Regions from separate parts of the Homo sapiens genome. Here region 1 is linked to region 2. Evidence: fine-mapped expression QTL. Tissue or cell type: whole blood. Region 2 holds a variant in brackets; the other region holds the start of a gene. All regions are shown on one strand. Distances are between the middles of the regions.

What was found. PIP is the estimated chance that this variant, and not a neighbour inherited with it, causes the effect.
Region 1: MCUB starts here. The variant in region 2 is fine-mapped to the expression of MCUB in whole blood (INTERVAL, PIP 0.90).

The regions. Positions count from the first base shown.
Region 1 is chr4:109,556,798-109,564,911 of GRCh38, forward strand. It overlaps MCUB (mitochondrial calcium uniporter dominant negative subunit beta), which reads left to right and starts at 3,449. Exons shown (of 8, transcript NM_017918.5): 1 at 3,449-3,639. The coding sequence starts at 3,541. RefSeq lists a silencer at 3,396-3,715 and an enhancer at 4,136-4,335.
Region 2 is chr4:109,654,764-109,662,763 of GRCh38, forward strand. It overlaps MCUB (mitochondrial calcium uniporter dominant negative subunit beta), which reads left to right. Exons shown (of 8, transcript NM_017918.5): 2 at 4,248-4,323; 3 at 5,432-5,602. Among named protein-coding and RNA genes, the nearest start is that of CASP6, 45 kb to the right of the region's middle. The variant G/T (reference allele first, on the strand shown) is at 4,165.

The DNA.
Region 1 (8,114 bases), 98 kb before region 2:
TGGGGATGGATAGAACACTTAACAACATGAGATCAGTCAGGGGAATCTCCTCACTTCTGTGTAGCAGACGAGGAACCCAAGAGCCCCCAAATGAGGCTCTCTGGTTTGTTTTTTTTTTTGAGATGGAGTCTTGCTCTGTCGCCCAGGCTGGAGTGTAGTGGCACAACCTCGGCTCACTGCAACCTCTGCCTCCCCGGGGTCAAGCAATTCTCCTCCCTTAGCCTCCCGAGTAGCCAGGACTACAGGCACGTTCCACCACGCCCGGCTAATTTTTGTATTCTTAGTAGAGACAGGGTTTCACCAATGTTGGCCAGGCTGGTCTTGAACTCCTGATCTTGTGATCCGCCCGTCTTGGCCTCCCAAAGTGCTGGGATTACAGGCATGAGCCACCACGCCTGGCTGGCTCTCTGGTTTAATAAAAATTGTGTAAAGAATCTTATTGAAAGGTGACAATGTGCTGGCGGCCCTCGCTGGCTCTCAGCGCCTCCTTGGCCTCAGAGTCCGCTCTGGCCATGCTTGAGGAGCCCTTCAGCCCGCTGCTGCACTGTGGGAGCCCCTCTCCAGGCTTGCGGAAGCTGGTACCAGCTCCCTCTGCTTGCAGGGAGGTTGAGGGAGAGACGCGGGTGGGAACCGGGGCTGCATGTGGCCTTGCGGGACAGCGCGAGTTCCGGGTGGGCGTGGGCTCCGTGGCCCCGCACTCGGAGGGCGGCCGGCACCCCCGGCCCGGGCAGTGAAGGGCTTAGCACCTGGGCCAGCAGCTGCAGAGGGGGGCGTCAGGTCCCCCAGCACTGCCAGCCGGCCCGCGCCACGCTCAAATTCTCACCAGGCCTCAGCCACCTCCCCATGGGGCAGGGCTCGGATCTGCAGCCCGCCATGTGCAAGTCCCCCCGCGGTGGGCTTCTGCTAGGCCCTAGCCTCCCTGAGGGGCACCGCCCCTGCCTCAGCGGCGTCCAGTCCCATTGACTGCCCAAGGGCTGCTGAGTGCAGGCACGAGGCACGAGCGCAGGACTGGCAAGCAGCTCAGCCCGCAACCCTGGCATGGCATCCACTAGGGGAAGCCAACTGGGCTCCTGAGAGGGGTGGGGACTTGGAGAACTTTTATGTCTAGTTAGAGGATTGTAAATGCACCAATCAGCACTCTGTCTAGCTAAAGGTTTGTAAATGCACCAATCAGTGCTCTGTGTCTAGCTCAGGGTTCGTGGATGCACCAATCAGCACTCTGTATCTAGCTAATCTCCTGGGGACTTGGAGAACCTTTATGTCTAGCTAAAGGATTGTAAACACACCAATCAGCACCCTGTGTCTAGCTCAAGGTTTGTAAATGCACCAATCAGTGCTCCGTGTCTAGCTAATCTAGTGGGGACTTGGGGAACCTTTATATCCAGTTAAAGGATTGTAAATACACCAATCAGCACTCTGTATCTAGCTCAGGGATTGTAGACACATCAATCAGCACCCTGTCAAAACGGACCAATCAGCGCTCTGTAAAATGGACCAATCAGCAGGATGTGGGTGGGGCCAGATGGGGGAATAAAAGCAGGCTGCCAGAGCCAGCAGTGGCAACCTGTCTGGGTCCCGTGCCACGCTCTAGAAGCTTTGTTCTTTTGTTGTTTGCAATAAATCTTGCTGCTGCTCACTCTTTGGGTCTGCACTGCCTTTATGATCTGTAACACTCACCGTGAAGGTTTGCAGCTTCATTTCTGAGGCCAGTGAGACCCGAACCCACTGGGAGGAATGAACAACTCCGGACGCGCCACCTTAAGAGCTGTAACACTCACTGCCAAGGTCTGCAGCTTCACTCCTGAAGCCAGCGAAACCACTGAACCCACCAGGAGGAAGAAACTCCAAACATGTCCGAACATCAGAAAGAACAAACTCCGGACACGCTACCTTTAAGAACTGTAACACTCACCACCAGGGTCCGCGGCTTCATTCTTGAAGTCAGTGAGACCAAGAACCCACCAATTCAGGACACATTATCAAGATTCTTCACAAATGTTAATAGGGATTTTTATCAGTTTTAGTTGTAGTTTCCAATTTCTAAAAATGTTCAGGTAATTTTTTTACACCTTTCAGAACCTAGCTCATGAGTGTTGAATCAATGCTTTTTCATGTCAATTCTTTGTATAGGCATTCTTTTCAGTTGTATTAAACAAGAACCCTTCACAACAAAAAAACAAAAATACACGCTTCTTTCACTTGGAGCACTAGCTAATAGGAGGAAAAGATTCAGGTAAGGTAATTTACCTTCCCATATGAACTTAAAGTTTCATGTGTCACTCTCCATCTGGGGCAACTGTATTTTGAAAGACATGCTAGTTAACACAGGTGAATCAGCCTTTAATAGTGATAAAGTTTTTACTATAGTAGAAACTTGTGATTCTTTCCCTTTTCAATAAGGAAAGGAGATTACCGCCAGGAGTGATTTGCCACTTATTGCAGGTTTGCCAATTTTGATTCATTAACTGAACCCTCTTGCAGATTCAGGAGATAAAAATGCGGAGTGCCCAGTTAAATTTGAATTCAGATAAACACCAAATAATTTAGTATATCCCAGATATTTCATTTTTAAAATAATAAATGTGACCCATGCAATATTTGGGACATACTTCACTATTTGTATCTAAAATTCAAGTTTAACTGGGCATCCTATATTTTATCTAACAACCCTACTGTAATTGGTTTAGGTTGCTCTTTAATGCCTTTGGTTTGCTTTCAAAAATAAGTAGTCTCAAAACAAAGCATCCGATTTCCCAGTAGTTAGAAGAACTCAATACCGGTTCCGAAGCTTCTTCAATTAAAAACGTGCTTCAAAAGAGAAGCCAATTCTGTGGGAGATACTTTCCCAAAAAACTCGGGTTTGGGCCCCTATACCGTGAACTACAAACCTCCGCAGGGGTAGGCCCGGGCTGCCCGCCTCACACCGCACTCGCCAGCGAGCAGGGGCCCGGCACCGCAGCCCGGGGCAGAGGCCTTGGAGGTTGTGGAGGTGGGAGAGGCCTCGGCCGACCCGCTTCAATCCGTCTTCTCCAAGCTCGGTGGGGAAAACAAACTTCCTGAGCGGCCCTGCCCCCTCCAGATGCCGGACGCTGTTTTCGTCTCATCCCCGTCTGGGTTGGATGGCGAAGACGGCGCTCAGAGCACGCAGCACCGGGAATTAACAGCGAGTTTTGAAATCTAGAGCTCGCAAGGTGTGCGTCGCCTGCTGCTGTTCATTCCAGAGGGTCTTCTGCTGGAGAAGGAGGGGGCCCTCGACCTCGGGCTCCCGCTCTCGGGCTCCCGCTCTCTCGCTCTCTTTTTTTTTTTTTTTTTTGGTCGGAGGAAAGAAAACAGCCCTGCGCCCGGATGCGTAGAGAGCCGACAAGTGGAAACAGGGACACACCCTCCCGTGAGCCCGCCCAAGCTGGAGCCGCGGCGCGCTGAGCGAGCAGGCGGGGCGGGAGCGCCCACAGCTCGGAGCCACCAGGCGCTGACGAGGAGCCCGGCTGAGGGAGGATGCGCCGCTGACGCCTGCGGGAGCCGCGCGCCTGGGGCGGGAGGATGCTCCAGAGGGGCCTCTGGCCGTGGCGCACGCGGCTGCTGCCGACCCCTGGCACCTGGCGCCCAGCGCGCCCGTGGCCGCTGCCGCCTCCGCCCCAGGTAAGAGCGGGTGCCGGGCTGTGGGGGTTCGGGGTAGGCTGGTGCAAAGTTTGCGTTGGACAACTTTGGCGGGAGCAAAAGCCGAGCGGCCGAGCAGTCAACTGCGTTTTGCTGGCTGCCGGGCTCCGCGCGCCGGGCGGTCCCGACAGGTGGTGGCCGGGCGGCCGACGTGGGTCACGGAGGCCTGGGCTGAGGTCAAGACTCCGGGCCCGGGGAAGGTGAAGCCAGAGCGCTGCGGCTGGGGGTGCCTCACCCGGGCCGAGATAGGGTGCGGGGACCACCAGACTTCGGCCTGGGAGCAGCAGAATAACCTGGGAGGCAGTTTCTGGGCTGCAGCTCTCGGTCAGGAGCAAGTTTCCAAAGCCGCTGCGCCGCGGGGCCGGTTCCCTCTTGGTGATCAGTGCCCGAGCCCCTAAGGAGCCCGGAAACGATGAACGGGGCAGTGACCGTCCCGGGTGTGGACGGTCGCAGGAGAGTGAAATTTCCATCCTGAAATCTGCGAGCACCTCCCTTTCCCAGAAGGAAGAAAAACTCGCGTTTTGTTCAGACACCCGAGAGACGGGTGAATCATGAGTGTGCTGGTGAGTAACAGTTGGCCTGACACCGTTGTATTGTGGTCTGTGGAGAACCGTGGCTTGGAGGAGTAGAGAGTGGATGTGCACCAAAAAAGACTAGAAGAAGGGGAAAGCGCTGAGTTTAAGGAGGATTGCGATGGAGCCTGACAGGAGCCCGGGAGTGCAAACTCTGACCCAGATGAGGAAAGACAGCCAAAGCCTTCAGGGTGTGTGTGGTTGGGGAGGGAGCTGTTTCTGAGTTTTCGTTTGTTCCTCCCCCACACTGTTAAGATTACTTTCAGATTGTTAAAGGCTTAAAAGCCAAAAAGTAAGCAGTGTGATTCTCTTGTCACTTTCACTTCCTGTTTATTTTGTTCTTTTTTTTCCTTCCCCCCCTTTTCCTCCAGCTGTCTGAGGGCTTCAGTTTCAATTGATGCAGGGAATATTTAAGTGCATTTTTTTTTCCTTTTCATTGAGCTTGTGACCAAAGGATTAAGTGCATTCAGAAAATCAATTCCAGGAATGTTTGAAAGAGAATGAGGAAGGCCATGTTGTTACTAAATGTAAGAACAGGGGCAAACTCCTTAAAATGTAAAATGGTAGACTTATAAAGTCATTGGGGAGATGGGCTTTTTATACTTTTAAAGGTTGTACTTTTACTGTAAGTGTTGCATTGTGTAGTCAAAGAGATACCAAACATTAAAACAACCCAATACGAGGAACCCCTTTCACATGCCATTTTAAACACAGATTATTGTTTTTTGTTGTTGTTTTTGGAGACGGAGTCTTGCTCTGTTACCCAGGCTGGAGTGCAGTTGTGCGATCTCGGCTCACTGCAACTTCCGCCTCCTGGGTTCAAGCGATTCTCCTACCTCAGCCTCCCCAGAAAATAGGATGACCGGCGCGCGCCACCGCACCCGGCTAATTTTTGTATTTTTAGTAGAGACGGGGTTTCACCATGTTGGCCAGACTGGCTGGTCTCGAACTCCTGACGTTGTGATCCGCCCGTCTCAGCCCCGCAAAGTGCTGGGATTACAGGGGTGAGCCACCGCGACCAGCCCCAAGTGTTTTCTATTAAGTCCATTTAACACGTTGAGTAGCATTTTTGTGGATCCCGGGACTGGCTGCCCTTTCTCAAATTATCACCTGCAAATCCTTTTCTCCATATTTCCCATCTGATGCTGTCTAGGGTGGTGCCATTGCATACCTCAGCAGGAATGTGGATACCCTTTTAAAAGAAAATGGTACCATCGGGCTTATTAGGCCTAATAACAGGGAAACAGTAGTTAGGAATCATCGTAAGAAGCGTTATGTTTGAATGTTTCTAATTTGCAAATTTTTGTTTTAAGCCAACTGTCCAGCTATAAAGACAATTTTCAGAACTTGAGAAGTGGAAATGCTGTTCTTTATATACAGCTTTTACATTTTACCATGAGTAAACCGATAAAAATATTCTGGCTCTTGAGGAGTTTTAGCTAGGACTACTAAACCATTTTCTGCTAATCAAATTACCTGGCTATCGGGACATTTTTCATTCTAAGATATCACTCTTTTGTGGCTTTCCCACTTGTTATGAAATATCCTGTGGGTAAAGGCAAGTATTATTTCTATTTATTTTTTTTCCCAGAAACATTCAGACCCCTAGAGCCTATGAAGCAGCTAGAAAAACAAGTAGTTTGTGACCTGACAGCTCATAAAATCTTAGCTTGCAAGGACTTGTCGTAAGCAGTATTTCAAATAAGCGTTCCCAACTATAATTGGTCTTTCTGAAGTCTTTCACACTTCTATGAGTGTGCCTTATAGGAGCATTTAATAACTTTGAAAAATACACAATTCTCATACTTCATATTGTATGTGAGCAATTGTCTGCTAGTGTTTTCTGGGTGAGGGGAAAAAAAAACAGTTTGTTGACATGGATATACAGAATTGTTTTTTAAAGAACACATTTAGTCTGAAGCGTAGTAGAGCAAGAGCATATTGTATTCATCTTTGGGCAAGGCATGGCCTGGTGGCCATAATCACGCTCTGGTGGCAGCATCTCTGCTTGTCAGCACTCTAGCTGAGTGGTTGTCAGGGCAATCCATGGCTCCTGCTGATGTTTCTGTGCACAAAGACTCAGCTTTGAGTAATTGTGGTGCTTGGTGAGTTACATCTGAACAGAAAGCCCTTGCCTAAATGTGCCTTTCTTAATTTGGATTTTGTGCTACTTAGACTGAGAAACTCCCTGATACGATTTCATGTCCCCAGTACAGCATTTGAGTCCATACATAAGCTATGTTTAAAAAATTTTTACATCAAGCACTCTGCAGAGCAGCTTAAGTATCGAGTATGCTTTTTTTAACTTCTAGAAACAAAGCATATGGATGTTTAAATTCCACCACAAGATGTCAACTTAGAAATTGTTTTCATCTTTTTAATTTAATGAACATATCGTTCTTGTTTGACATGTTCCTACTATTCTATCTCTTGTATTTGCAGTTGGTACATTGTATTCTATTCTATAAAACTAACTTCAGAGCCCTCTCCTGAGGAGAGCAATTGGTTAAGTGTTGGTGATTGTATTTACGCTATGGAAAAGACATTGATGCTTTGATCTCAAAGTAATGCTAGACCAGCTTGTCAATTAAATATTAAACATTACCACTTTTGCAGCACTTAAGTATTAGTGTGTTTTTTTTAGATTTTGCTTGTTATTGTGATTAAATGGTATTAGTGCTGTTTTACAGCAAATTCTAAGCTAGGAAATCATTTGTGTCTTGGCAGAAAGATATTTGTTGAATGAGGTACCTGTGAAACTAAGGTAGAAAACCTCGAGCTAAAACTCCTGACCTCGTGATCCTCCTGCCTCAGCCTCCCAAAGTGCTGGGATTACAGGCGTGAGCCACCGCGCCCAGCCCACAGCACTTCTTAAAAAAATAAAAGTAAAGGAAAAAGCCAGACCTAATAATCTACTCAATCTAGTAAATATCATAAGATCCTCAGGAAGAACTCATATTTGTGGGGTGACCCTTGCCAGTCTTCAAGATTTTCCTCTCTAAAGTTTACCACAGCAAAGCTTTGTGAACCTGTCAGTTTCTTGATATGAGATTCAATGTTTTATGTCATTTCTTATTTATTTCTGCTTATAGGCTATATGCATTTCTTTCTTTTCTTTTTTTTTTGAGACGGAGTCTTGCTCTGTCGCCAAGCTGGAGTGCAGTGGCGCAATCTCAGTTCACTGCAACCTCCGCCTCCCGGGTTCAAACGATTCCCCTGCCTCAGCCTCCAAGTAGCTGGGATTACAGGCATGTGCCACCATGGGGGCCAGCTAATTTTTTGTATTTTAGTAGAGACCGGGTTTGGTTTCACCATGTTGGCCAAGATGGTCTCGATCTCCTGACCTCGTGATCTGCCCACCTTGGCCTCCCAAAGTGCTGGGATTACAAGCATGAGACACTGCGCCCGGCTGGCTATATGCATTTCAAGTCTAGCCCCATATCTTGCCTCTCTTTCACTGTTCCCTATTTCTTGCCCTCAAATCTATTCCAAAAAAATTATCTTCAATAGACCTTGTTTATCATGCAGATTTCATAGATGATTTCTCATCAATATTGTGAATCCTGGACTGAAATCTGTTCCCTAAAGAGCTGCCAAAATGCAAACCTGATCTACAATACTTGTAGTGAACCTGTAATTAAGGTAAAAATTATGTAAAATCAACACATCTGGAAGTTTATGACACAGGAAACTCTCAGAACAAATGGTTACAGGGCTTGGTAGTTGATGCAAACTATACTTTAACTCAGGTGGGGATGGGGTAGCAAGGAAATAGGAAGATTTAGAGCAGGTGAGGGCAGCAGGAAGAAAAGAGGAATCCACTTCCATAAGTGAGTGAGGAGAGTAGTAACTTCAGTACTACCATCTTTCTTTGAGAGAGAACTA
Region 2 (8,000 bases):
ATAGGTAAAATCATAATGCTCATATGGGTTACTATGATCTCTTTCTACCCACAGAACACTCTGGCAGCACATGTGTGGATATTTTCCTCATACCAACAACCAATTCTCCAACTTTCCAAACACCATCTGGGTGCCCTACAATTTAAATCAATACTGACACTACCTACCTGGAGTTAACATCAGATCCCACAAGTTAATAGCTTAGTGCCACAAGACTGTCCCACTTAAGATGCCAATTATAAGTCCTGGGCCTCTCATGTTTCTCACAGGAGGCTGTAAATCAGGGGTTCCCATGACCCCCTCCTCAACCTCAGCTATTTACTAAAATTGCTCACAAAACTCAAGGAAACACTTTACTTATGTTTACTGGTTTATTATAAGGATATTCTAAAGGATACAGCTAAACTGTTGGATTAAGAGATACATAAAGCAAGGTACAGTTTGTGTGAACATAGTTTTCACTGTTGGGAGGTCCCAAGCCCAGAAGCTTCTGTCTCATGAAGTTGGATTATGTCACCCTCCCAACACGTGGTTGCATTCACCAACCTGAAAATTCGCTGAACCTCATTGTTTAGGGACTTTCATGGAGGTTTCATCATGTGGGCATAATGGATTTTATTAACTCAGTCTCCAGCCTCTGTCCCCTTCCTGGAGGCTGGGAAGATGGGACTGAACATTCTAGGCTTTTAATCAAGGTTTGATCTTTCTAGCAACCAGCCCCATCCTGAAGCCATCTAGCATCCCACCAAGAGTTACCTTGTTAAAACCACAGAAACTTCAATCGCTCGTGAAATTCCAAGGGATTCAGGAGCTCTGTGGTCAGGAACAAAAAATGCTTCATGGTTAAAGAGAAGCCCAAATCATCTTTTGCCCTGATAGCAAATTCCATTTAAAGGCAGTAACGCTTGACCAGGCACTAAAATTTGGAATTCGGAATGATTCTACGCAGAAATCTAGCATGTTGCCACGAAGCCTGGGGCAGCAGGGGGTGTGTGTGTGTGGTGGTGGGGGTTGTGGGGAGGTTGGCTAAAGCCCAGCTTCTCACAGTGTGGTTCTCACCCTTGAAACTTCAGTTTACCTCTGGAGCTTATTAAAAATGCAAATCCTCACAAACTGACCTTTTAGATTAAAAATCTCTGTGTATGGGGTCTGGGAATCTGTGTTTTTAAGGCTTCCAGGTGATTATTAGGCAAGCAAAAGCTTGAGAAAGCCCTGCTGTTTTTCTCAGGCCACTCTGCCTTCTTTCAGCATCTTCTGGTTGTCATGTGGGTGCCTCTATCTTGTGGGTGCTACAGTTACTTCTTCAGTAGTACACCTGCAACTTTATCAGTATATTAAATGATACTTTGTAATCATTTTATATTGCCTCCAACTGGATTCCTGGATTCTCACAGGCATTATCACCAATGGCATTTAGGAACCTGACTCATATGTCTTTAGCATTATACGGACTCTAGCATAGAATTTGGTAGGTAACGTGTAGAAAAAAATCTGGAAGGATACATGCCAAACCACTGGCAGTGGTTACCTCTGGGGAGACTTCCAGGATTATAGAGAAGTAAAGGGAGGGGCTCTAACTTTTACTCTCTACTTTTTTTTTTTTTTTTTTTTTTTTTTTTTTTTTTTTTTGGAGACAGGGTTTCCCTCTGTGGCCCAGGCTGAAGTGCAGTAGCTACAATCTCGGTTCACTGCAGCCGCCTCCTCCTGGGCTCAAGCAATCCTCCTGCCTCAGCCTCCCAAGTAGCCAGGACTACAGGCATGTGCCACCATGCCAGACTTTTTCTGTAATTTTTGTAGAGACAGGGTTTCACCATGTTACCTGGGCTCAAACTTCTGGGCTCAAGCAATCCGTCTGCCTCAGCCTCCCAAAGTGCTGGGATTATAGGCAGGAGCCATCACGCCTGGCCTACTCCCTACCTTCGTGTATTTGACTTTTATGCACAGAAAATTATCTGTCTCATTATTTTTATAGAAGAATTTTGATAGAGAATTCTGATGTGTCTCATTTTTATGTAGTTTTGCTAAAAGTAGTAGACGGTATTGTAATATCCATTATCCACACTTGGAGAACTTCTACCTATATTTATTTATTGAGAGTTGCATCTATTTTAAGACATCATCTGCCTTTTTCTTCTCATCTTAGTAGTGAGCTACATTTTTAGAAATAATGCTCAGGCCGGGTGTGGTGGGTCACGCCTGTAATCCCAGCGCTTCGGGAGGCCGAGGCAGGCTGATCACAAGTTCAGGAGTTTGAGACCAGCCTGGCCAACTTGGTGAAACCCCATCTCTACTAAAAATACAAAAAATTAGCCAGGCATGGTGGCAGGTGCCTATAACCCCAGCTACTTGGGAGGCTGAAGCAGGAGAATCACTTGAACCCAGGAGGTGGAGGTTGCAGTGAGTTGAAACTGCATCACTGCACTCCAGCCTGGGCAACAGAGCAATATTCCATCTCAAAAAAAAAAAAAAAAAAAAATAGAAAGCTCAAATGAACAGTCTTAATGTAAAAGATGATGTTGTGTTGACATTTATTGCCTATGTTGTGTTTAATACTAAAATATGTATTTGAATGTTTTGTTTTACTTATTGATGAGGTTCTTTTAATTTTGAACATAATGGACCTTCATTTGGGTCAGTGTCATCTTTATTTTTTGAAACAGCGAACACACTTTTAACCACTGATTTATTATTTTAATAGTGTACCCTCAAATCCTGAAAAATTTAAAAATGCAGTTTATAAAAGAATTATTCTTTGCACAATTACTGGCAAACTTATTGTTAATAAACTACTGTAAGGTGATGCATTAAAAAATCTGGATCAGTATGTTACAGCCACCGTGTTGTGACTTTGGTACTAATTTCTCTGGTACAAGTCCTTTTGAGTTCCAAATGCCTGTGAACCAATTCCCCAATGCCTGTTCTTTCTACTCCCACAATATCTTTGTTCACACAGTGCACCATGATATTATTCGGTCTTCATTAAGCACCAGTGCAATTGTGTAAACACAAACACCAATGCAAGCCCCCAAAACATGTTCCGTGGTGAGGTGGCCATTCAGATGTTGTAGACTCAGCACTGCTGTCCAATAGAACTTTCTGTGATGATAGAAATATGCTATTCCTGCGCTTTTGCTTTTCAGTGAGATAGCCATTAGGCATAGGGAGCTTTTGAGCCCTTGAAATGTGGCAAAGGTGACTGAGGTTCTGAATGTTTGTGTACATAATTTTTTTGTGGTTGCTGTTTATAGGAGACAGGGTCTCACTGTGTCGGCCAGGCTGGCCTTGAACTCCTGAGCTCAAGCAATCCTCCTGCTTCGGCCTCCCATAGTGCTAGGATTACAGGCGTGAGCCATCGTGTCCCACCCGTACATAATTTTAACTAATTTAAATAACCACATTTAACAAGTGTCTACCATATCGGACAGCACAGATCTAGAGCAGTGTTTTTCAGACTCTAATGTGCATGTGAATCTTCTGAGGATCTTGTTAAAATGCAGACTGGAATTCAGTACATCTGGTCTGAATCTGTGATTCTGCATTTTTTTTTTTTTAAGACAGAGTTTTGCTCTTGTTACCCAGGCTGGAGTGCAATGATGGGATCTTGGCTCACGGCAAACTCCACCTCCCGGGTTCAAGTGATTCTCCTGCCTCAGCCTCGCGAGTAGCTGGGATTACAGGCATGTGCCACCATACCTGGCTAATTTTGTATTTTTAGTGGAGACAGGGTTTCTCCATGTTGGTCAGGCTGGTCGCGAACTCCTGACCTCAGGTGATTCGCCCACCTTGGCCTCCCAAAGTCCTGGAATTACATGCGTGAGCCACCATGCCCGGCCCGATTCTGCATTTTTAATTAGCCCCAAGATGCTCCTGGTCTGGGGACCACATATTGAGAAGCATGTCTCTAGACTAGATATACTTATGTCCATTTGTTTTAGATTATTACCTGAAAGGAAATACTGAAAGTAAAAATTCTCACAGAACTCTAGGATTTTCAGGGGGCCTCATACCCCAATTTAGGGATCCCGTCCTGGTGTGCTACTGCTACAGCATACATAGTAGCAGGCAAGCATATAGCCAGGAAGGTTCAGTGAGCTTGCCAAGGGCTCACCCTGGGATGCATGACAAGTTGAGTTTTTCATTATGCTTTTCATATAGTATTAAAAA[G/T]AATCTTATGGTAAAATAAAGACACTTATTTCATCTTTCCCACTCTTTTTTTAAAAAAACAAATTAATTTTTCCTTCTTGTAGGTTTTGCGTGTGAAGCTGTGTGGAAATGTGAAATACTACCAGTCACACCATTATAGTACCGTGGTGCCACCTGATGGTAAGCTTTCTTACCATTTATTTGATTCATATGTTAATTGTTTCCCTTTCTTCCAAATAAAGAGCTGCGAGAGTTTTGAGCAGAATAGACTTTTCTTACACTATCCCCATCCCACCCCACCCTGATTGGGTTCACTTCCACCTTTTTGTGCTCCCATAATATAGCTGCTGTCTTTTGTCAAATTCCCACCTCAGAATCAGAGGAGTCAGAGATGATAAGCAATAGTCGGGTGGGTGTGGTGGCCTGTAATCCCAGCACTTTGGGAAGCCACGGCAGGCGGATCACTTCAGCTCAGGAGTTTGGGACCAACCTGGCCAACAAAGCAAAACCCCATCTCTACAAAAAATACAAAAATTAGCCAGGTGTGATGGCACATGCCTGTAGTCCCAGCTACCCAAGAGATTGAGGTGGGAAGATTGCTTGAGCCCAGGAGGTAGAGGCTGCAGTGAGCCATGATCGTGCCACTCCAGTTTGGGCAACAGAGTGAGACCCTGTCTCAAAAAGAAAGAAAAAAAAACAAATAGTTTCTGTCCTCAAGAAAACTAGAACTTAAGTGTTTACCTGAGAAGACTTTTTTTCTTTTTCATTTAATCAGGGTCTAGCTGTGTCACTCAGGCTGGAGTGCAGTGGCACGATCTCGGCTCACTGCAACTTCTGCTTCCCAGGCTGAAGCCATCGTCCCAGCTCAGCCTCTTAAGTAGCTGCAACTACAGGCGCACACCACCATGCCAGACTTAATTTTCGTATATTTTGTAGAGATGGGGTTTCGCCATGTTGCCCAGAGAGCTCTCAAACTTCTGCGCTCAGGCAGTCCACCAATCTGAGCCTCCCAAAGTGCTGGGATTACAGGCATGAGCCACCATGCCGGCCACCTGGGAAGACTTTAAGCAGATAATAAAGTGTGGTATGTGCTACACTAAAATGTTATAGAATGGTAGGGAATATGTAAACTGTAGTATAATGAAGGCATTATTGGAGCAATACAAATTTTTATAAGACTTCAGAGGTTTGTGAATTTCATGTTTGAGCATTCCTTCTAGAATTCTTGTATTTATGGTTTTTTTTAAAGTAAAATTTACTCATTTTTTTTTCTTTTTTTCCTTAACAGAAATAACAGTTATTTATAGACATGGCCTTCCCTTGGTAACACTTACCTTGCCATCTAGAAAAGAACGTTGTCAATTCGTAGTCAAACCAATGTTGTCAACAGTTGGTTCATTCCTTCAGGACCTACAAAATGAAGATAAGGGTATCAAAACTGCAGCCATCTTCACAGCAGGTATATATGTATATAATTTTACAACTTTGTCCCAGGGTTTCTGTCTCTCCTGAACTTTTGTTTGGTTCTTTACTTTTCTAGAAGTACATTGTTTAATTCATTAGATAATAAATGGTTGGTCTTTATTCTTTCATTTTTATGCATCAACACTATTTTAAAAACTGTTTTGGCCTGGCGTGGTGGCTCACACCTGTAATCCCAGCACTTTTGGGAGGCCGAGTCAGGCGGATCACCTGAGGTCAGGAGTTCGAGACCAGCCCGACCAACATGGAGAAACCCCGTCTCTACTAAAAACACAAAATTAGCCACCCGTGGTGGTACATACCTGTAATCCCAGCTACTTGGGAGGCTGAGGCAGGAGAATTGCTTGAACCCAGGAGGCAGAGGTTGCAGTGAGCCGAGATCACGCCATTGCACTCCAGTCTGGGCAACAGGAGTGAAACTCCATCCCAAGAAAAGAAAATTAAAAAAAAAAAAAATTTAACTTCATTGAATGAAAAATTAATGGAATAAATTTAATGTAAATTTCAGTTACTTATTTTATAAACTTAGCCTTAAAGGTTTTTCATGAGAAAATCTTAGTGGCACAGGCATTAGCGTGCAATTCTCAGCAAAATTTGAATAATTAGAAAACAAAATGCAGTTTTAATTATTAAAATAAGCCAGTGAATAATTAAAGTACACAAAAAATTTGTTCACCACTGTTATAAAGCAATTACAGTCTAGTATGTTTTTTGGCAGAATTAGTTCTTAGGAAGAATATACATTTTTTAAAAAACCAGAAGTATGTCATCACTTAGACATTTAAAATTTAGAATACAGCTTTCATGTTCTCATAGTCTGAAATGGTCTTAGACCAACTGCTTCTAAATAGAATAAAGAATTATTTACCCTATCCCACTACATAGCAGCTGCAAATATAGATAAATTAATAAATTTGCATTATTTCATTATGATATTAAATACTTAGAATAAAGTTATTTAGGTTCATGATTACTGTTGCAGTTTTGAAAGGGAAATAAACAGACTTTTTCCCTATCCAAGTTCCAAATTAATTAAAAGATAGAGAAGTTGGAAAATGGAGATTAATTGATTCATTCAACAAATATTTATTGAGCACCTAATGTATGTCAGGCACTGTTCTATACGCTAGAGGTAGTGCAGAGAACAAAAGGGATAAAAACTCCTGCCCTTATGGAGCTTATATTTAGGAGGAGAAAAAAACAAGATAAATTATGTATTATGTTAAATAATAAGTGTTACGAAGAAAAATAAAGCAGAGTGTGGAAGATGTGTGTGGGCAGGGGTGGGCTTGATAAGATTACATTTGCACAAAGACCTGGGGGAAATGAGGGAGGGAGTCACGTAGAGGGAAGAGAGCTCTGGGCCGCATGCGGTGGCTCACACCTGTAATCCCAGCACTTTGGGAGGCCGAGGTGGGTGGATCACCTGAGGTCAGGGGTTTGAAACCAGCCTGGCCAACATAGCAAAACCCCTTCTCTACTAATAATACAAAAATTAGCCAGGTGTAGTGTTGCATACCTGTAATCCCAGCTACTCAGGAGGCTGAAGCAGGAGAATCGCTTGAACATGGGAGGCGGAGGTTGCTGTGGTCCGAGATGGCACCACTGCACTCCAGCCTGAGTGATAGAGTGAGACTGCATTGAGGTGGGAGCCTACTACACAGTGACCGCAAAGGAGGGAGCTGGGAGAAAGGAGGAGTTCTGAGAGGTGGGGAAGGGCAGATCAGGAAAGGCTTATTGTAGGTTGTTGTTAGGACTATAGATTTAGCTGGAAGGGACGTTTCTTCCTGCTAAAACCTGGATCAGAGAATAAGGTTTTAGCCCTATGGCACAATGGGCTTCCTAATATTTCATCCTTGAACTAGACAGACATTTCCCCCAGGCACAGGAACACTGGAATGTCCATGGGCGTTTTCCACAGGGGCAGGGCCCTCTTTCTAAGCTTCTAGGGGCAGGCAGACCCAAACCTGGAAGTCAGAAGGGCCTGCACTGAGCAGCACTTGCCTGGTGGTGTGTACTCAATTAGTATTGAAGTGAATGAAATAAGAGAGGTTAAAATGATAGATGTTTATCCTGCTTATTTCTAAAAATAAAGTTAGTAGCTTTGAAACAGAAAGCACAAAGAAAGAGAATAGAAGTCTTAGAGAAAAGGGACTCTTTGGACTGAGTGCAAACACCCTATCGGGGGTTTAAATTGATACCCAAGAATACATGAAAAATTTAACACTGTATCACTAGTGCTTAAAAATGTTTCACGTCAGTCTTTTGCTATTCATACCTTTGTATAAAGGATAATATAGTATTTCAACTGAGAAATCATATTCAGTGTATGTCTTTTTTAGTAAGATTTTAAGGAGCTGGTTTGAAGTCATTTA